Linked DNA regions of Homo sapiens: region 1 is linked to region 2. Evidence: fine-mapped expression QTL. Tissue or cell type: blood mononuclear cells. Region 2 holds a variant in brackets; the other region holds the start of a gene. All regions are shown on one strand. Distances are from middle to middle.

Evidence for each region. PIP is the estimated chance that this variant, and not a neighbour inherited with it, causes the effect.
Region 1: it holds the start of LPIN3, and the variant in region 2 is fine-mapped to the expression of LPIN3 in blood mononuclear cells (TOPMed, PIP above 0.99).

Annotation. Positions count from the first base shown.
Region 1 is chr20:41,335,084-41,345,664 of GRCh38, reverse strand. LPIN3 (lipin 3) reads right to left here and starts at 4,844. Exons shown (of 20, transcript NM_022896.3): 1 at 4,663-4,844. RefSeq lists a silencer at 4,863-5,022 and an enhancer at 5,183-5,232.
Region 2 is chr20:41,366,343-41,376,923 of GRCh38, reverse strand. EMILIN3 (elastin microfibril interfacer 3) reads left to right here and starts at 10,106. Exons shown (of 4, transcript NM_052846.2): 1 at 10,106-10,456. The coding sequence starts at 10,290. It also overlaps the pseudogene LOC124904985. The variant G/C (reference allele first, on the strand shown) is at 4,609.

The sequences.
Region 1 (10,581 bases), 31 kb after region 2:
AGCAGCTGTGCGATGGGAGGTACACCTGTAGATGTGGGTCTAACCCCAGCTTGCCCACTGCCCTGCTAAGGGACCCTTGGGCAGCCGCCTCCTTCCCCAAGTGCCGATGTCCACATCTGTAAAATAGGGCACAAGGTAAAACAATACCCAGTTGCCTCGTGCCTCTAAATGCCATGACTAATGATAATGACCACAGTGTTCCGTGGGTACGGCTCATTTCATCTTCACAACAACCCTGTGGGGCTGGCTGAGCGGGTGTCATTATTCCTGTTTACAGATGAGCCAGCAGAGGCTCAGAGAGGTGGAGTGACCTGCCCAGAGCCTCATAACTATGAAGGAGGGAACCTGAGATCTGAACCCAGGTTTGTGTGGTTCCACTGGGATGGTCCAACTGTGAAAACGGAGGGGGTGGGAAGAGGGGGCAGCCTCATTAGATAGCAGGCCCAGGGCCCTGCTGGATAATGGGTGACTGTGCTAATGAGTACTCTTCTTTTCCCAAGAAGTGGGAACGAAGGAGCCTCCACTTTTCCATCTGAGAAATGGGCTCAGCTGTCTTGCTATCTGCTGGTCCTGTGAGTTGGAAGGTGTCTTGCTGGGCGATTGTAGCTGACTTATGGGGGACCAAGGGTGGGAGCACCCCAGGTACTCAAGGCTCTGTTCAGCCCCATTCCTGGGGTCAGATGCTCAAGGCAGAGCATCCCCTATAGCTGGGGGCTTAAGGCCCCAAACTACAAATTCCTTCCCAGTTTCCCTGGTGGGAAGCCTGTCCATGCACAGCCTGACCCCAGCGGTGTCCAGGCTATAGTTCTCAGACCCCAATTTCAACCCTAACCCCAGCTCCTCAGACCAGGGCTGAGCTGGCTAGGCGCTCAGACCCACAATCAGGCCTTGGGCTGGCCTCAGCCCACTGAAGCTGCTCCCTCCCCCAGCCAGACCGGTCTCTCCAGCTTTCCCACACCAGACAGGCCTGGGTAAGCCCAAAGCAGGAGGCTGAGGCGGCCTCAGAGAAAAAACAGGGCTATGATGAGAGCCTCCTCCAAGCTGGCACAGTGCCTGCCCCAGCAGCTTCAGGTGATCACCCCTGCCCTCCTGGCCAGGCCAGTGGCCTGCTGCCCCTCTGCCTGCCAAGACCCAGACTGTCCTATCTCTACAGAGCACTTTCTTCTCTCAGACCCTGGGTCAGAACCCCTGGAGGACAGCCTGCCATGCAAGACCACTTAGCAAAGAAGCTAAGTGACTTACCCAAGGTTAAGTGACTTTACAGGTGAGGAAACTATTCAAGCTCTTCTAAGCTGACAGGCCATAGAAGGGGTATAGGGAGGGGAGAGAGGGAGTAAAGACTCATATCCAGCTCTCCTGACTCTAGAGCATGGTCTCCTTCCACTCCATGCTTCCAAACCACCCAAGAGTTGGTTGCATGGCCCATGGCCACTTCTGCACAGCCCTGCAATGCCCTGCACTCAAAATGTGGTATGCACCAGCAACAAACATCAGCATCAGCATCACCTGGGAGCTTGTTAGAAACAGAAACTTAGGCCCAACTCAGCCCTACTGAATCAGCATCTGCATATTTTTCTTTTCTTTTCTTTTCTTTTTTTTTTTTGAGACAGGATCTCACTCTGTTACCCAGGCTGGTGTGCAGTGGCACCAAAATGACTCACTGCGGCCTCAACCTCCCAGGCTCTAGTGATCCTCCTGCCTCAGCCTCCTGAGTAGCTGGGACTACAGGCATGTACCACCATAACTGGCTAACTTTTAAATTTCTTTTGTAGAGACAGGGTCTCACTATGTTGCCCACGTTGGTCTCAAACTCCTGGACTCAAGTGATCCTCCCACCTTGGCCTACCAAAGTGCCGGGACTACAGGCGTGAGCCATTGCACCTGGCCTAGCATCTGCATTTTAACAGGATCCCGAGGTGATTCCTGCAGCCTTTCATGTGTTTGAAAGGAACTGCTTTTGTGTTCCCAGTCCACAGTCTACTCTTGGAAGAGCCTAAACGACAAGACCCCCACCTCCACAGCATTTCTCAGATAATGCCACATCCTGCCCATCCTAGGACATCGGATGAAGCAGTGGATTCTTTCAGTCTATGTCAGAGCGTCACAAACATAAGACACAATTCAAATTGCCAAAGTGAAAATGGGATGAAATGAAACTCCCTGGACCCCTAAGATGTCACTCAAATCAAGTTTATCTGCAAGGCACCTGCCATGTGCTAGATGGGACATTTCCACTTTGGTTTCTCCCTACCTAATGCCAAACTCTGAATACAGGTCTGGGGAGACAGAGTGGTGACAGACACTTGGTGGGCAGACCTCTAAACCACTGTGCCCAGGAAAAGCAGAGAGGACTCCAGAGGCTTCCAGGAATTAAGGAGCAAGCATGGGGAGGGGCAGAGCCGGGGTTGGGGCAAAGGTCCATCCAGCTGGAGGCCCAAGCCTGAGCTTTCTGCCCTATTAAGCCCTAGTGCAGTTTCTCAGCTTCAGCATTACTGTCCTTTGGGGCCAGATAATTCTTTGCTGGGGGGTGGGTGGGTGCACTGTAGGATATTCAGCAGCATCCCTGGTCTCTGCCCATTAGATGCCAGTAGCACTTCATCCCCCGCAGCTCCAGGTTGTGACAGCCAAATTGTCTTCAGACATTTTTAAATGTCTCCTGGGGGACAAAATTGCCCCCAGCTGAGAACCACGATCTAGTAGAAAGGGCCGAATAGCAGAGATGGCACCCGGGGTCCTACTCGGATCCAGCCCTGGAGTATTCTCAGGCAAGTAACTGGCTGGCCTCAGTTTCCCCTTCTGTGAACCAAGGCCTCAGTTTTTTAGACCCATCTCCCTCAGATCTAATGTCACGGGAGTCCAGAATTCTCTCCTCTCTCTGTTCCCCCCACTTCACCAATGGATGTCCCCCACATCTGCCTGCTCGGCATTTTGGGGGCCTTCTGTGAGCCCCCCACATCTGCCTGCTCAGCATTTTGGGGGCTTCCAGTGAGCCCCCCCACATCTGCCTGCTCAGCATTTTGGGGGCCTTCTGTGAGCCCGCCTCTGTCTTCACCTATCCCTTAGGCACCCCCTTTTCCCAGGACCCAGCTCTACCTCCTTGTTCTTTTCCAGACAGAGGAGAGCTCTGCTTGGCTCCCCTCTATCACCCTCCACCCACAAACTAACATGTCTAAAATCAGCCACTTCACTCCTCACACCTTCCCAGGAAGCCGAATACCCCTTAGGACTAGTCACTACCCCTCTCTCCCTCCCTAGCCCTCTGAATCTTCTCCCCCAATTTCCTGCTCATCCAGCCCCTCCTTTCTCCAGCTGTCCTAGGTTAAGACTTTATAACCAGATGCCCAGATCACGGGTGGCCACAGGACATTAGGAGAAAAGGCACCAGATTATCTGGGTGCTGATCCCCACTCCGCCATTTGCTAGCTGTGACCATGGGCAAGTGACTTCATCTCTCTGACCCTCAGTCTCAGCCTCCAAAATGGGAATAACATCAGGCACGTGTGAGTAACTAATGACTTTGTGTAAAGCCCTGGAATGCAATAAAAACCTGTATGTACACCTATCAGCAGCAGCATCATGACAGCCCCACTCATGCAGGCTGGTCCTGTGGGCACTGCAGGTCATACTCTGATGAACTGCCCCTGCCAGCAGTTGAGAGTTTGGACTTCTTTTATTTATTTATTTTTTTGAGATGGAGTCTTGCCCTGTCACCCAGACTGGAGTGCGGTGGCATGATTTTGGCTCACTGCAAGCTCCGCCTGCTGGGTTCAAGCAATTCTCCTGCCTCAGCCTCCCGAGTAGCTGGGACTACAGGCGTGTGCCACCACACCCGGCTAATTTTTTGTATTTTTAGTGGAGACGGGGTTTCACCGTGTTAGGATGGTCTCGATCTCCTGACCTCATGATCCACCCGCCTCAGTCTCCAAAGTGCTGGGATTACAGGCGTGAGCCACCGCGCCCAGCGGAGTTTGGACTTCTTAACTTGGCACTCAAGGCCATGCACAATGGTGGCACCACTATTTGCAAAACGAGCATGTGCACTCCACGTAGGCCTCACACCCCACCTTGGGGATGTTCACAGGCCTTCCAGGCTAGACTACAACTCTAGCACAGGGAAGCCAGAGCAAGCTGCCCTAGGACTAGGCTCTCAGCCCTCGGGGCTCCCAGGTTTGGGTGGATGAAGGGTGTGGCTCTCCACCGAGGACCAGAGGGAGCAGGAGAGTAAGCACTCCTAGTGCCCCAGTAGAGAGAAAGCGCCACCCCAGCCCCCAGCAGCTACAGCATCTGATCTGCCCAGTCTCAGGGCAAGCAGGGCAAGGGCCAGTCACTGTTTTGCAACTGAGGACACTGGGTACCAGAGAAAGTGGCTGTCCTCCTCAAGGTCACACAGTCAGGCTGGGGTAAAGCTGGGCCAGCCTCCCCTGGGAGGTTTCGACGTCTCCTCTCCAGACTCTACGTTCTGGGTGTCCAGGGGGCCTGCAGCCGCTGGGCCAGGGAAAAAGGGACAAAATGAGGCCAGTCCCTCCACCCCTGCGTCCCCATCTTACAGCTAGGGGTGGACCCAGGCCCGCGGACAGGAAGGAAGGAATGTAGGATGGCAGGACAGATGGGCAGGGCGGGAGGGGAGAGGGTCATCTCTTCTCCCCCCGAGTTGGGCCCTACCTGGGGAGCTGCCCACTGGAGCTCCTGGACTCAGAGCCGCCGCCTCTACCTACGTGCACAGGCTCCACAGGTGAGTGTCTTCGGCCCTCAGTCACTTGGCGCTTCCGGGTCCTCTAAGACAGGGTGAGAGCACGGCTCCACTCCTTCTACGATCCTAGTGCGGCCTCCACAGGCCCCAATCTGCCCAGGCTCCACTCCCTGGAAAGACCCCGCCCCTGCTCCGATCCCCGCCCAGGGCGCCCTTTGGCCTCGGAGGCGGGGGCGGGGCCAGACTTCATGCCCCGCCCACCAGACCCCGCCCCAAGTCCCTGTGCCACCGCCTGCCCCACCTCCAGAAAAGTGTGGATTTCGGAACGGGGCGGACCTAGCTCCTCCCAGATTTGCTTCCAGCTTGCTGTGTGATCTTGGGTGAATTCCTTCCTCAATTTGATCCCATTTCCTGTTTTGTCAAGGGGGAAAGCCGCCTTGCAGGATTTTAGAGATGACATGAAATGACTTTGCGCGGCTCCTGGCGCTCAAACGTCCCCTCCTGGGGGCAGCTTTTCCTGAACCCACCCGTATCTCCCAGACTGGACAGGCCCCTCGCGTCATCTGTTCGCATAGCCCACAGTTGTAATTTCATATTTGCTTGAATGACTACTTGATTAATGTATATCTCTTCATTTAAATTTGAACTCTGAGAGCAGGTCACGTACATCCTTACACTCCAGCGCTTATCAGTACCTCGCCTGACAAACAGCAGGCGCTCCATAAATGCCCGCACCTTCATTCCATCCCTGGGACGTTCTGGTCGAGCGGCAGCGGGCTCAATACTGACACTGGCCAGCAGGGGGCAGGCGGTGATCAGCCTTCTGGCCCAGCCGCGCTCCCTCCCTGTCTGCAGGCACTGCGGGAGGGGACAGGTGAGCCCAGGTGCGCCGAGGCACGCGGAAGGTGCATTTACTCTCGTGCCTTGGGCAAGGCCCGGGCCGGGAACGGCTTTTTCCTCTTGGATCTGTGGCTCGCGGCTTTCCTGGACCAAAGACCTTTCCGACGCCCTATGGCCCCTGCAAAGAAGCTGCCCTGAGAAGGGCCTGGAGATGAAGTAATTTGTTCTAAAAGAGAGAGGGCACCGAGGAAAGGCTTGGCGGAGCAGCAACGGCGACGAGCCAGGCTTAGAAACGACTGGGCGGTGAGGAGGAGAGGTAGCTGCCATTATTCTGACTCAGGGTGACAGAACCTGTTTGGAAGTGACTGGCCTCAGTTGTCCTCATTTTGGCAGAAGTCATTTAGTATCAGTCCTGATCCCAGGTAGTGTCTGGCTGCTATCTCAGAAGAGCCCTGTTGGGAGCAGAGCTATGTCAAGGTGGCCAGGAGGGCAGCGTCATACATACCATTTTCTGTAACATCAGGAAATCCCTGAAGGGAGCCCGAGAAGGAAGGAAGGAGAGGTCACAGGTTGGGGCTACAGATGCCGAAATCAATTTACCTCTTTGAGCCTCAATTTCATCGGCAAAGGTGGTGATAAAAGCTACCTTGCAGGATTCTATTGTGAGGATTTACAGGATGAATTAAATAAGTGGTTCTCAACCTTGACTGTGTGTTAGAATCACTGTGCCCTAGACGAATACTGATGCCCCGGATACTGGGAGTTTAAAAACCTCTCCAGTTGGTTGTAATGTACAAACAAGGCTGAGAACTGCTGATCCAAATTAAATGCAGAGCACAGCGCCAGGGCACACACTAGGCATTCAGGAATGTTTATCACATATTTATTTTTATTTAAAAAATTTTTGTGTCACACATTTTTAAAGATGGAGCACAAATTGTTTTCATTGTTCATTGTTAGAGGAAAAAAAGTTGATATAAAGGTTGTTGCAGAAATTGCATTTGCGGCTGGGGTGAGGTGGCTTACGCCTGCAATCCCAGCACTTTGGGAGGCAGAGGTGGGCGGATCGTCTGAGGTCAGGAGTTGGAGACCAGCCTGGCCAACACGGTGAAACCCCATCTCTGTTTTTTTGTTTTTGTTTTTGTTTTGAGATGAAGTCTCGCTCTGTCACTCAGGCTGGAGTGCAGTGGCACCATCTCTGCTCACTGCAAGCTCCACTTTCCGGGTTCACGCCATTCTCCTGCCTCAGCCTCCTGAGTAGCTGGGACTACAGGGGCCCATCCCCATGCCCAGCTAATTTTTTGTATTTTTAGTAGAGACAGGGTTTCACTGTGTTAGCCAGGATGGTCTCGATCTCCTGACCTCGTGATCCACCCACCTCAGCCTCCCAAAGTGTTGGGATTACAGGCGTTAGCCACTGCGCTCGGTCCCCCGTCTCTATTAAAAATACAAAAAAAAAAAAAATTAGCCAGGCATGGTGGTGCACAGCTGTAGTCTCAGCTACTCAGGAGGCTGAGGCAGGAGAATCACTTGAACCGAGGAGGTGGAGGTTGCAGTGAGCTGAGATGGCGCCTCTGTACTCCACCCTGGGTGACAGAGCAAGACATTGTCTCAAAAAAAAAAAAAAAGAAAAAGAAAAATTGCATTTCTGACAGGCTCGTTTCTGGAACTCTCAATCATCTGGGATTTGGTGATGAGGGTAGGAGAAGAAAGGCAGATAGAACAGCCTCTGCTAGTATGACTTGTTCTAACACTGAATGGAACTGAATAAGGCAGAGACTGTCCCACTCTAGCTTGTGGTTGACATCACCATCTCCAGGGCTTTCTCTGAGGGTGCAAGCAGCATGGACACTTGTGTTTGCCCATTTCTGGGGTTGAAGGTGGAGGCCATTTTTTCCTCTGCTTGGGTATACTCATCGGATGAGCCTATATCACTGGCAGCTGTTTGTTTCTTCATTAATCCAAGAATGCAGGTGGTACTTCCTTCTTTACAGAATTTGGTAGCTTATGTGTTTTATTGTTTTTTTGTTTTGTTTTAGACAGGGTCTGGCTCTGTCACCCAGGATGGAGTGCAGTGGCACAATCACAGCTCACTGCACCCTTGACCTCCTGGGCTCAAGCAATTCTCCTACTTCAGCCTCTCGAGGAGCTGGGACCACAGGCATGCATGATCACACCTGGCTTTTTTTTTTTTTTTTTTTTTTTTTTAGAGACAGAGTCTCGCTCTGTTGCCCAGGCTGGAGTGTAGTGGCACAATCTCGGCTTATTGCAACCTCCGCCTCCCAGGTTCAAGCGATTATTTGCTTCAGCCTCATGAGTAGCTGGGATTACAGGTGCCTGCCACCATGCCTGGCTAATTTTTGTATTTTTAGGAGAGATAGAGTTTTGCCATCTTAGCCAGGCTGGTCTTGAACTCTTGACCTCATGATCCACCCGCCTGGGCCTCCCAAAGTGCTGGTATTACAGGCGTGAGCCACGGTGCCCAGCCACATCTAGCTAATTTTTAAAAATTTTTTGTAGGGATGGGTGTCTCACTATGTCACCCAGGCTGGTCCCGAACTCCTGGGCTCAAGCAATCCTCTTGTCTCTGCCTCTCAAAGTCCTGGGATGAGTCATTCCATTCACCCTATGTGCTTTGTTAATTTACAGACCCAGTGGTTAGTGACTGTGCCCCTCTACTTTCTTGCTGGGTGAACCTGGCATGAGGTGAGAGGGCCCCCTTACCCAGGCCTGTAGTTGTGATCACTCAGAGCAGCAATACTGGCTTCTGGGAGCAGCTCATCAATCACTCCTGGTGGCTTTGTTGAAGGTGGGAAGGGAGGCAGTGGACCCTGGGGCTGGGTCTCCCACTGCATGCAGGACTAAGGGCTGGGGGGCAGGCAACTGGTGTCTAGTTGGGATTGCCAGATTCAGCAAATAAAAATAAAGGACACTCATGTAAATCTGAATTTCAGATGCACAGCAACTGCTTTTTAATATAAGTATACCCAAGCAATATTTGGGACATACTTATACTAAAAGAAAGTATTCATTATTCATCTGAGATTCAAATTTAACTGGACATACTTTATCTTCTTTGCTAAATCTGGCAACCCTATGTCTAGCCAAACAGCCAAGTCTCCAGCACGTGGGACTTGCTGCCGGCAATGGCCTCTGCCCCATGTTGCCACATTCAGCTTCCACCTGTCACTGCCCAGCTCCAGAACTGTGCGTGGCTCCCAGTTACTTCTACAGGACACTCCCTGGCTGCTGTGCTGGGCCTTGGCTCTTCTGCCAGCCCAGCTGACCTGCTTGGGACCTTTCCCATCTCTGCTCCTGTTCATGCTTTCCCTGCCTGCCATGTCTCCTGCCTACTCCCAGGAGGGATCGCTAACATTTATTGAGCACCTACTGGGTGCATGAGTTCTTCATTTGCATTATCTCATTGGATTTTCACAAAACCCAGGATAATGGGGACAGTAGTTATCCCATTTTACCAGTGAAGAAACTGACACCCTGAGATGGGGATTTGTGTGATCTTGGCTCACTGCAACCTCTGCCTCCCAGGTTCAAGCAATTCTCCTGCCTCAGCCTCCCAAGTAGCTGGGATTACAGGCGCCCACCACCACGCCTAGCTAATTTTTGTATTTTTAGTAGAAACGGGGTTTCACCATGTTGGGCAGGCTGATCTCAAACTCCTGACCTCAAGTGATCCACCCACCTTGGCCTCCCAAAGGTGCTGGGATTACAGGCGTGAGCCACCATGCCAGGCTAACAGTGATTCTTTTTTTTTTTTTTTTTTTTTGAGATGGAGTCTCGCTCTTTCACCCAGGCTGGAGTGCAGTGACGCAATCTTGGCTCACTGCAACCTCTGCCTCCCAGGTTCAAGTGATTCTCCTGCCTCAGCCTCCTGAGTAGCTGGGATTACAGGTTTACAGGTTCGTGCCACCATGCCCGGCTAATTTTCGTATTTTGAGTAGAGAGGGAGTTTCACCGTGTTGGCCAAGCTGGTCTCGAACTCCTGACCTCAAGTGATCCACCCACCTTGGCTTCCCAAAGTGCTGGGATTACAGGCGTGAGCCACAGCACCCAGCCCCAACAGTGATTCTTAAAGTGTGGTCCCTGGACCAGCAGCAGCACTTGGGAACTTGTTAGAAATACCAGTTCTCAGGCCCTACCCCAGACCTACTGAATCAGAAACTCTGGGGGTAGGGCCCAGAATCTGTATTTTAATAAGTCCCTCCCTGCCTGCACCACCAAGTGGATTCTGATGCTCACTCTAGTCTGAGACCTGCTGCTGTAAAAGATAAAGTGACTACCAGACTCTCCCATCCCGGCAGAGGAACAGAGGACAACAGGGTGATTGTGTTCTTCCTGAGCACCATGCCTGGGCCAGGCACTAGAGATGCTGCAGGAGCCCCATAGTCTTAGAGGATGGGGAGGGGAGGGGAAGAACAGACCAGCAGCCAGGGAATTGCAATATAAGATGATGAAACCTGAGGTGGGGCAAGCCCAGGAGCCCATAGTGGGGTGGGAAGGGTCAGAGAATGCTTTCCAGAGAGTGGAAAAGTAAGTTGGAATTAGGTGAAGACAGGTGAGCACAGTGATCCAGGTGCAGGGACTCATTTGTACAAAGGCCAGGCTGAGCCACCTGGGGATAGTTTAGGTTGGGAGGTGGGAAGGGTATAAAATCCCTGCCCTCAGAGCGAAGGAAGACGCTGTAGTGAGTGCTGAGGGTAAAGCCTCTGCCTTCCAGGTGGAGTAAATGCTGGAGAAGATGGAAATTGGGGTGTGAAGAGAGACCCAGGAGGTGCCAGGCCTCCCCACTTCCTTCAATCCAGGAGCTTTTGCTCTCAAGACATTTGCTCAACCCCCAGCCATGTCAGTGAGCAGTGGGCAGGTACGTGGTTGCGAGGTCGGGGCTGCCGGGTCCAAGCGCAGCTCCTTCCTAGGCTAGGTGAGAGATGGAGCTGGGGGAGCAGCCCCCTCCGCCCCCGGCTGGAGAGGTTCCTGCTCTGTGTCCCTGGCTGGGTTGCTTTTGCCTTCCTTGTTTCCTTCTCCTGAGGATGTGG
Region 2 (10,581 bases):
ACAAACTCCTTTGCTTGTTTGTTTGTTTTTTGAGACAGAGTCTCACTCTGTTGCCCAGGCTAGGGTGCAATGCAAAGATCTCAGCTCACCGCAACCTCCGCCTCCCAGGTTCAAGCGATTCTCCTGCCTCAGCCTCCTGAGTAGCTGGGATTACAGGTGTGCACCACCATCCCTGGCTAATTTTTGTATTTTTAGTAGAGATAGGCTTTCACCATGTTGGCCAGGCTGGTCTCAAACTCCTGACCTCAAATGATTCAACTGCCTCGGCCTCCCATAGTGCTGGGATTACAGGCGTGAGCCACTGTGCCCGGCCTACAAACTCCTTTGGAGATCTCTTCATTCCCATTGCCTTTATTTTTGCTGATGAGTTAAATTCTCTCCAATTTCAAAGAAATGAGATGGGGCAGGTTTTGAACATTCAGCTGGTTTTGTTGTAAAACTTTTTTTGGGGGGTTGTCTCTATTTTCCCTTGTATTAGGAGTCATTTGGCCCATTCTTCTGGGGAGGGTGACTCTCGTCTGGTTGGAACCTAGACGTCTCCCCTCTCTTCCCAGGAATGCTGCCCTGGCTGGCACACTTGAGTGTCTAAGGTCAGGCCCTCAAGGTGGGGGAAACCCGTTTCTCTCCTGCTGACAATTTGGGCTCCAGGTATAATGGGCAATCAAAGCTCTTCCTGATTATGGGAAAAGGAGAAGAATGAGGTTTGCGGGAGGAGAAAGGGAGGGTCCCTGGGAAGGAGATGGTGAGAAGAGAGGCTAGGGATGGGGGAAAGGACGAAAAACCCACGAGGGACCCAAAGCTGGAAGGGTGGTCAGTGGTGCGGCAGCCGCCTGGGAAGTGCCAGGCCCGTGGAACAGGGAAGGATGGCCTCGGGGCAGCAGAGGGGCTGTGGCCTCAGCCAGCCGTGCCTTCTGACCAAGTGCCTTCATCAGCTATCTGGGAGGAGGGGTCACAAGGACAGCCAGTCAGCGACTTCCCTGTGGCTCTAACAGGAGCCCTGGACAGCAGTGGGGTAGGGTGGGCCTCTGACCTTGCACTACAGTATGCTCTGGCCCCCTGCCCTGCCCCCAGCTTCAAAGGGGCAGCCAACAAATGGGACACCTTAACAGTGTGCATATCCTGCTGCCCTCCAGACAGCCTTCTCCCCCGGGGTACCTGAAGGCACCTCCAATTCAGTGTGGCTTCCCTCCAGACTGGTGTACCCCTCTGTCCTTGTCTCAGCAAAAGAGACCCCCCATGCCAGAAACCTGTAGTCATCCTGGAGCCCCTCAAAAGTCAAAAGGCCTCATCGCCTGGATACTTTCAGCTGGTCCCTTCCATCCTCACCAACATGGTTCCAGCCTTCACCCTGGCTCAGGCACCTGCACTGCCACCTAACTGGCACTACCAACCACCCACTCCATGGTGGGCAGCTGGGGGATGATGGGGCTCTTCATGAGGCCAGAGAAACAGGAGGAGGATGGAGAGAGGGAGGGAGAGGGAGGGGAGGGGAGACTGTGACTGGAGGTGGGACTGTGGTGATATGGCCAGGGAGGAAGATACCCTAATCCCAGTGCAGCCCCTGGGGCAAGGGAGGGAAGGAAAGGATACAGTCCCCGCCATGGGAGCCTCCTGTCCGCTCTTTCCCAAAGGAACTAGGGCTGCTGGCCAACACCAGCATAGCCAGGAATGTGGGAGCCCTGGCTGCAAAGACTCAACCTGGGGAAGGCCTCAAAGGTCACATGGCAAGGGCAGGTGGGTGGGACCCGGGCAAAAGGAGAAGGCTGGGCTGCTCTGGAGGGGAAAGGGGTGTCAGAAGGTCAGGCCCTGGCAGGGACCCCTTTTGAATAGACGCCAGATATATCATCTAGCCCTAAGCATAAGACAGAATCCTGGGGCCCCACCAGGGTGGGGCCCATGACCCTGACCTTAGCCCTGAGCCTTCTCCAGCCAGCTCATTGAAGGCTGGTGACTCTCTCTCCAAAATGCCCACCCTCTCTCATCTCCAGCATCTCTTGCCTGGATGCCAGTGCCAGCCTGCCTAGTGCCATCTCCTCATGGCTACAGAATGACCCATCTAACACCCACGGTCCATTCATCTGGCAAACTTGGGCAAGAGATGGCCCCCCGCATCCAGGACTGCCAGTCTGGATTGGAGCTCGACTCAGAAATAGACAATGGCAGTGGCACTAGGAAGTGGTCTGGAGTGGATTCAAGGGGCTGAAGGCCAAGCATCAAAATGCAGCAACCCCCAGCCTCCTCAAGTCCTCAGCCTGCACGCAGCCCTCTCCCCTCCTGCCATGTCCCCTCCTAAGTCCCCTCCCTCTGATTGGAGCATGTGTCTCCCACCATGGATGCTCTTTCCCCTCTCACCTCCCCAGGCCCCTTTCTGGCCCCTCCTGGGGCTTCTCTAACTCTCATCCACCTCTGCCCCTCTGGATGCCTTGAGCACAGAGCCTGGAGCCGACCTGTCTGTGCTTCCAGCACCGGGTGCCCAGCAAATGTCCCAGCAAATTAAGGAATTAAGGCAGAGCAGGTCTGAGATAAGGACAGTGTCTGGGTGAAGGTCAGGTTCTGCCTGTCCAAGCATGAGTCTTCCATGGCAACACCCTCCCCTTCCTTCCCCCCATGGAGGGTAGCCCCCTCCCCTGCTTGTTTTGGCCTCTCTGCACACACCCTGCATTGCAAGCCTGCCTCCCCCATCACCAGTGGGTAATCTTGTGTAGTTTTTACTCTGGTGTCCATGAATAGAAGAGTTAGAGGAGAGCTGATGGTGAGCCCTTCCCAGGGCCTTGCAACCACACCCCCGCATCAATGCCTGAGCAGCTCTGCACTCTACTCCCCCGCCCCCAGCCTCTCCCCATCCCTGTCCTAATCAGGCCTGGAGGCCAGCCCCTCCAGCAAGGGGCAGCCCCAGGTCCTTACTGGGGTCAGGCCAGCTGTGCCACATACTCTGGTCAGTGTCCGGACCTTCCAACTGGAGGCTCAGCCTGGCTCTAGCTGTGGTGGGCACAGGGAATGCAGACCCCTGCCCTGTACAGCTCATTCAACCCTGCCTCAGCCCTGATGTTTTGTCTCCTCTCTTTGTGGTACCTTCTAGACTCCTTCCCACACCCAGAGCCCCAGATTAGCCACCAAGGCCTTTTAGTCCTTTGTCCTGAAAGCCTCTAGAATCTAGCCCTGTTCCTCATCCCTCGGTCCCTGTTAGCCTGGTGGCTGACAGCTGCCAGGGCCACCCCACCGGCACCCCACCTCGTGTGTCTGCTCCACACAGCTGCAGCCACAGGATGTTTTTCCCGACAGTTCTGCATGCATCGTTTCCAGCTGTAAAGTCCAGACTTTTCACTGGGGTATTCAAGGCCCCTCTTGTCTGGCCCCTGCCAACCTCTCTTGGAGCCTGGGCTACCCAGAGCTCTGCGGGGTTCCCCATACATACCAGGCTCTCTCCTGCCTCCAGGCCATGCACATGCCGCACCCACCACCCACGGTGCTTTCTCCCCGTGCGGTGAACTCTAGTGTTGCCTGTTTTGTGAAACACCCTCTGATCCCTTCCCCCAAGCTCAGGCACCCAGGCACTTCTTCCTCTGTGAGCCCACGCTACCCTATGGTTCCTGACTATACAAGTTCATGTCCCCCTCTGCATGCAGGTCTGTCCCCCTCTCTTGGGTTGGGTTCCACAAAAGCAGATCCTGAGACAGGGATCTAGTTATAAGTCATTTATCAAGGGGGCTCCTGGGAGAGATACATAAGGGAGGTAGGAAAACAGGAGAGGATGGAAATAGAGCAAGAATGGATCCCAGGTAGAGTCTAGAGGGGCCTGACCAAGGGGGCTCTGCAACATAAACTAACACTGGGCTGTCCACCATGAGGCGAGGAGGCTGCCTTTTTTGTCCCCCTGTATATTAGTCCATTTTCACACTGCTGATAAAGACATATTCTAGACTGGGCAGTTTACAAAAGAAAGAGGTTTATTGGACTTACAGCTACGTGGCTGGGGAGGCCTCACAATCATGGTGGAAGGTGAAAGGCACATCTCACATGGCGGCAGACAAGAAAAGAGCGCTTGTGCAGGGAAACTCCCCTTTTTAAAACCATCAGATCTTGTGAGACTGAATCACTATCATGAGAACAGTGCAGGAAAGACCTGCCCCCATAATCCAATCACCTCCCACCAGGTTCCTCCCACGACACATGGGAATTGTGAGAGTTACAATTCAAGATGAGATTTGGGTGGGGACACAGCCAAACCATTTCACCCTATCAGCCAGTCACTCCTCAGCCAAGGGCAATTCACAGAAGGGGCAGCTGGGAGCATTCCCAGTAATCACACCTGCAGCCAGGGGATTCATGGGTACACTGACCAGGGAAAGGGAGTCTGGCTGGGGTACCCACAGCACCCCTGTTGAGTGTGACCTCTGCCAGATTTCTTGACGAGTGAGAGGTACATGGATTCCTGGTCCATCCAAGCACTGACATTTTCCAAACCCAGAGCTGCATGTGCTGCTTTGCAAGAAGGTCCTGCCCACAGCCTGAGGGGGCACAGCTGCTACTGCAGTGACTAGAAAGGAGGCCCAGATATCCAACCCCCAAGAAAGGACTCTGTGCAGAGCCCTGCCACACTCACTGGGC[G/C]TCTGTTATGTGCACGACTGTGCACATGGGAGCCTTGGCCAAAGTTCTCATCTATTCCTCATAATAATCATTTTCGTATAGGAAAGCAGAGGCTCAGAGGGGTGAAGTGACTCAAGGGAGGTCATGCAACTTGTGAGTGGAAGAGCTGGGATTCAAACCTGAGTCTAATTGACTCCTTGCCTGATTTCTTCCCCACAGTGTGTGAACCACCTTGGAGCAAAGCCCTTCCTGCCCACCATAAGAAAACTGGCAAGTCCTAGCTAGGTGCAGTGGCTCATGCCTGTAATCCCAGCACTTTGGGAGGCCAAGGCAGGTGGATCACTTGAGGTCAAGAGTTCAAGACCGGCCTGGCCAACATGGTGAAACCCCATCTCTACTGAAAATACAAAAATTAGCTGGGCGTGGTGGCTCACGCTTGTAGTGCCAGCTACTCCAGAGGCTGAGGCACGAGAATGACTTGAACCTGGGAGTCGGAGGTTGCAGTGAGCCAAGATCACGCCACTGCACTCCAGCCTGGGCAACAGAGTGAGACTCAGTCTCAAAAAAAAAAAAAGAAACTGGCAAGTCCAGGGTGATCTCTCTGCCCCACAACAGGTCTCAGCTAAACTTAGGGTCCTCAAGGACCATATCTGGCATTTGCAATAGTTGGGAGACCTGTGCATGTATTTTGTATATAATTTGCGTAATGTTGCATCTGGTTTGCATATGTCCATGTTGACAGTCCATCAGCAGTCACAATTTCTAAGCTGTTCCTAAGCTACTCTCACTCAATGGAAGTCCGTCCAGGCTTTACAGAGCCCAGTTTCCACGATTTCTGGACTCTTCCAGGACCTTGCCTCCAGGCTGCACATCTATCCCCCCTAGGATCCTGGACGAGCCCTGCTTCTGCCTAGCTGGATGGGGTCAGTGCAAACCCCTGCCTCAGAAACTCATGTGCATTTGGTATAACCTTTTATGATGGTGCAGATATAATCAAAATGCTGATGGTGATGATGTGGAGAAAAAAGTGAGCCTGGGCAAAGAGCCTTGCTGCACAGAACTTCCAAATGTGGCTCTGTGGGCAGGGAGGCCTAGCTGTGCACTCTCAAAAAAGAAAAAAAAAGAGGGTAAGGGAGATGGTCAGGGACAAAGGGCTGCACCTTAGGGCTGGTGCCTTCAAGGGCTGTGGTCCCTGTGCAGGAGGGGTCCATCTGCAGCAGGAAGAGCTTGTACCAGAAAGCCAGCAGCTTCAGTGCTTTCTATTTCTGTCTCTTTTAGGGGAACTGCATCCCATACAACTTTGTGTGGTTTTTAATACTCTTATGTGCTGGGCCCTCAATAAGAAAAGGAAAGGCCAGATGTGGTGGCTCATGCCTGTAATCCCAGCACTTTAGGAGGCCAAGGTGGGCGGATCATTTGAGACCAGCCTGGCTAACATGGCGAAACCCTGTCTCTACTAAAAAAAAAAAAAAGAAATACAAAAAATTAGCCAGGCGTGGTGGCATGTGCCTGTAATCCCAGCTGCTTGGGAGGCTGAGTCAGGAGAATTGCTTGAACCTGGGAGGCAGAGGTTGCAGTGAGCCGAGATCACGCCACTGCACTCCAGCCTGGGCAACAGAGTGAGACTCCGTAAAAAAAAAAAAAGAAAAGAAAAAAAAGAAAAGAACAGAAAAGAAAGGCAGGATGCATAGGGCTCACCCCTGCAGTCCCAATACTTTGGGAGGCCAAAGCAGGAGGATCACTTGAGGCCAGGAGTCTGAGACTAGCCTAGGCAGCATAGTGAGACCCCATCTGTACGAAAGGAAAAACTCATGCACATGCATGATAGTGGTATGGGGGATGGGTTGGGTGTGGTTGTGCATGTCCCTGTGAACTGAAACTGCACTCCCACTCCCGTGTATGGCCCGTTTCCATCCAGGTGTAGAAACTCCAGTCTGAGTCAGAGGAACATGACTGCCTCCTTTCCTCCTCTGCTTCTGGCCTCCCTAGGTTTCCTGTCTGGCAGATGCAAAGTGGCCTCATCGTCTATGGGGGGACCCCCGCTCTGGCCTGATCCAGCCAAGACCCTGAGCATCTCCCTGTACTGAGGTCCTCCACCCCCACTAGAATGGGGCCCAGATCCTGGATCCCAAAACTGTTGCAGTGAAAGAGGGAGCATGGTGTTTGATGTCAGCCACCTGGGAAAGGGGGAAGTGGGGTCCAGCTATCCTTTTAGCCCCTATGACGTGGATATTTCCAAGCTCAAACAGGGTCCAGCCTCTTCCTTGTGAGTTTTGGGCCCCACATCTGGGGCTGGGGAAGGGAGTGAGAGGAAGGGGTGGGACCACTTGGAAAAAGATCACAGCCTCTGGGGTGGGGGAGTTCCTCCCAGAGCCAGGCTGGGCAATGCTGCCAGGCAGTCAGCACCCAGCCTAGGATGAGGAGCTGGCTCAGATGTTTCTCACTTCCTAAAAAGCGCAAAGTCAGTGGTTACAAGATCAAGAGCTTGTTGGGGATATGGTGTATCTTGCCCTCAGCAAAATGGTTCATAACATCTCTCTTAGAGGTTGGAGCATATAATAGCACATTCGGTGCTTTTATAGGGAGAGTGAAAGGCTGTCTTAGGGACCATGTGGTTGCTGTAAGACTATACTTTCAGGGATCATTTCTACAGTTCATGACTAGAGAAGTTTCTCTCTGTAGAGCACATTTGGTTGCTGGGATCAGAAACCCATTCAAGCTAGCTCCAATGGTGGACTACTGGAAGCAGATAGGGAAGTCACAGCTTGTCCCCAGATGGTTACTCACCACATAGCCCCTGACTCTGCCCCTCTCTCCCCTGACCACACTCTTTCTCCCTTTCCCATGATTCCCCCAGAGCTCTCGTGGTCTCTCCTATCATTACCAGCCAAGTGCCCCTGTAGTGGATTGAATTGTGCCCCTCCCAAAATTCATGAACATTTGGAACCTCAGAATGTGACCTTATTTGGAAATAGGGTCTTTGTAGACGTAATCATTTGAGATGAGGTTATGTTGGGCTGTACATCCAATGACTGGTGTCCTTATAAGAAGAGGAGGCTGGGCTGGGTGCAGTGGCTCACGCCTAGAATCCTAGCAATTTGGGAGACTGAGGTGAGAGCATCACTTGAGCTCAGGAGTTTGTGACCAGCTTGGGCAACAAAGTGAGAGCCCATCTCTACAGAAATTTTAAAAATGAGCTGTGCATGGTGGTGCACAACTGTGGTCCCAGCTACAGAGGAGGTGGGGGCAGGAGGATCACTTGAGCTCAGGAGGTCGACGCTGCATTCCAGCCTGGGTGATGGAGCTAGACCTTGTCTCTATTTATTTATTTATTTATGGAGATGGAGTTTCGCTCTTGTCACCCAGGCTGGAGTGCAATGGCATGATCTCGGCTCATTGCAACCTCCACCTCCAGGGTTCAAGTGATTCTCTTGCCTCAGCCTCCCAGGTAGCTGGGATTACAGGCGCCCGCCACCACGCCCGGCTAATTTTTTTATTTTTAGTAGAGATGGGGTTTCACCATATTGGCCAGGCTGGTCTCAAACTCCTGACCTCAGGTGATCCCCCCACCTCGGCCTCCCAAAGTGCTGGGATTACAGGCATGAGCCATCGCGCCCAGCCCTGTCTCAAATTTAAAAACACAACCAGAAAGGCAGGGCGCGGTGGCTCACGCCTGTAATCCTAGCACTTTGGGAGGCCGAGGCGGACGGATCACGAGATCAGGAGATCGAGACCATCCTGGCTAACACGGTGAAACCACGTCTCTACTAAAAAAAAAAAAAAAATACAAAAAAATTAGCTGGGCATTATGGCGGGCGCCTGTAGTCCCAGCCACTCGGGAGGCTGAGGCAGGAGAATGGCGTGAACCCGGGAGGCAGAGCTTGCAGTGAGCCGAGATCGCGCCACTGCACTCCAGCCTGGGCGACAGAGCGAGACTCTGGCTCAAAAAACAAAAACAGAAAGAAGAGGAAAGGACACAGATCACAGTCACAGAGAAAAAAAGGTCACCTGAAGAGGGATATGCGGAGGGAAAGTAGAGGCTGGAGTGATGCTGCTACAAAGAATCCTTGACCAAAGAACGCCAGAGATTGCCAGGAACCACCAGTGGCTGGAAGAGGCAAGGAAGGCTTCTCCCCAGAGCCACTGGAGGGGGCATTGCCCTGCTGGCCCATGGATTTTGGAGTTAGCCTCCAGAAATGTGCAAGAATACATTTCTGTGTGTTAAGCCACTGAGTCTGTGGCTGTTACCACAGCCCTGAGAAACTCACACAACCTACACCTGGAAGCTGGATTCCTTCAGCTTCTGTGTTCTGATTCCAAAGCCTGGGGGAAAGCAGGATGGGCCTAGCTGGGGTCAGATGTCCGCCCCACAGAACCCAAAAGCCACTAAAGCTAAGGGCAGGAAATAGATGTGGGTTTCGGAGCTGCCCCTTCCAGTATCCTTGATAACCATCACCCTATCCAAAAGGCATTAATTCATATCTCAAGGTCAATTTGGAGGGAGGTCTCTCCAAGCAAGCCCCAGAGTTCTGTACACCTATCAGCTCCTGGGGCAAAGACACAGACGGCTGTAGCCACCGGTGTGGATGAGACAAGGCCAGGAAAGTACCGCTCTGATGACAGAATCAGAAGGACTCTGTGCAGGTTAGAGAGTTAGCAAGGTGATACTGAATGAGGACGACGATAAAACCCAACTCTTGGGTTCCAAGAGTCAACTTCACAAGCAAAATGTGGACGACGCCTGGCTTCACCGCGGCAGTGCCTTGTGAGAAAGACCTGAGGATTTTCTCTGACCAGCCGGCTTAGAGCTTCAGTTGCACGAAAAGCACAGCACTTTTGGCTGGGCTGGGGCGGTGATAGGCCTTTCGGGCTCGGTGCAACCCATACCTAAGACAGAGAGGCAACACAGGCGCCTCCAGAGAACCAGAGGTGCAACCGGGCCACCAGGCTACGTGGCAGAGGTTGCGGGGTAAGGGGGAGGTGGGATGCCTGGGGAGAGGTCAGCGGAGTTATCAAACTAAGGTTCCCGGGCAATGATGGGGCCAGGAGGCAGAGCGAGCAAACGGGGATGATCTGGGGTCTATTCCAAAGAGGTGGCGGGGGAGGTGGTGCTGCTGTGCCCCCAGTCACGGCCATCTCGGCTCCAGAGCCCTGGAGAGCAGTTCCCGGGTTCACACGGACTCTGAAGACAAGCGTATCCTGAGGGTGGACGACTCCTGGAAAGTCCACGCCCAGGCTGGCCTCAGGGGTCCGCTTCTCTGCGTCTCGCCCCGTGCCCGCAGGCGACAGAGTGGCTGGTGTGCTCGGGGGGCCTCCCAGGGCGCGGCGGCCTGCGCCCCTGCCACCTGGGGCTGCTCCCTTTGGAACCTCCTGTTCGCAGGCGGCTCCTCGGCCGTCCGCTCGGAGCTGGGGCGAGGGGCTGGCGGCGGCGAGCGGCGCGGCCCCAAGTTTATGCTAATCCGCAAAGAGCCCGCCTCCCGCCTCCCCTCCGCGGCCCCAGCCGCTAGCAGCGCCGGCCACTCCGCGGGACGCAGCCGCCGCGAAGCGCCAGGCGGCCGGGCCAGCGAGCTCGGGGGCCGAAGGGGACCCCGGGACCCTCGGGGCGGGACCCGGGCCGACCAGCGGCGGGGGCGGCGCGGCGCTGCAGGCGGACACCCGGCGGGGGGCACCGCGCGGGGCCGGGCAGAGGCGCGGGGGCCGCTATGGGCCGCCGCCGCCTGCTCGTCTGGCTGTGCGCCGTCGCGGCGCTGCTCTCGGGGGCGCAGGCCAGGGGCACCCCGCTCCTGGCGCGGCCTGCGCCGCCCGGTGCCTCCCGCTACAGTCTCTACACGACGGGATGGCGCCCGCGGCTGCGCCCGGGGCCGCACAAGTAAGCGCGGGCGGGCGGCGGGCGGGAAGAGGGAGGGATGGGCCCGCGCGCGTCGCCGCTCCCACCTGCCCGCACCCGCGGGGGGCGTCGAGGCCCCGGGCACCCCGAGGCCGCTGCACAGAGGG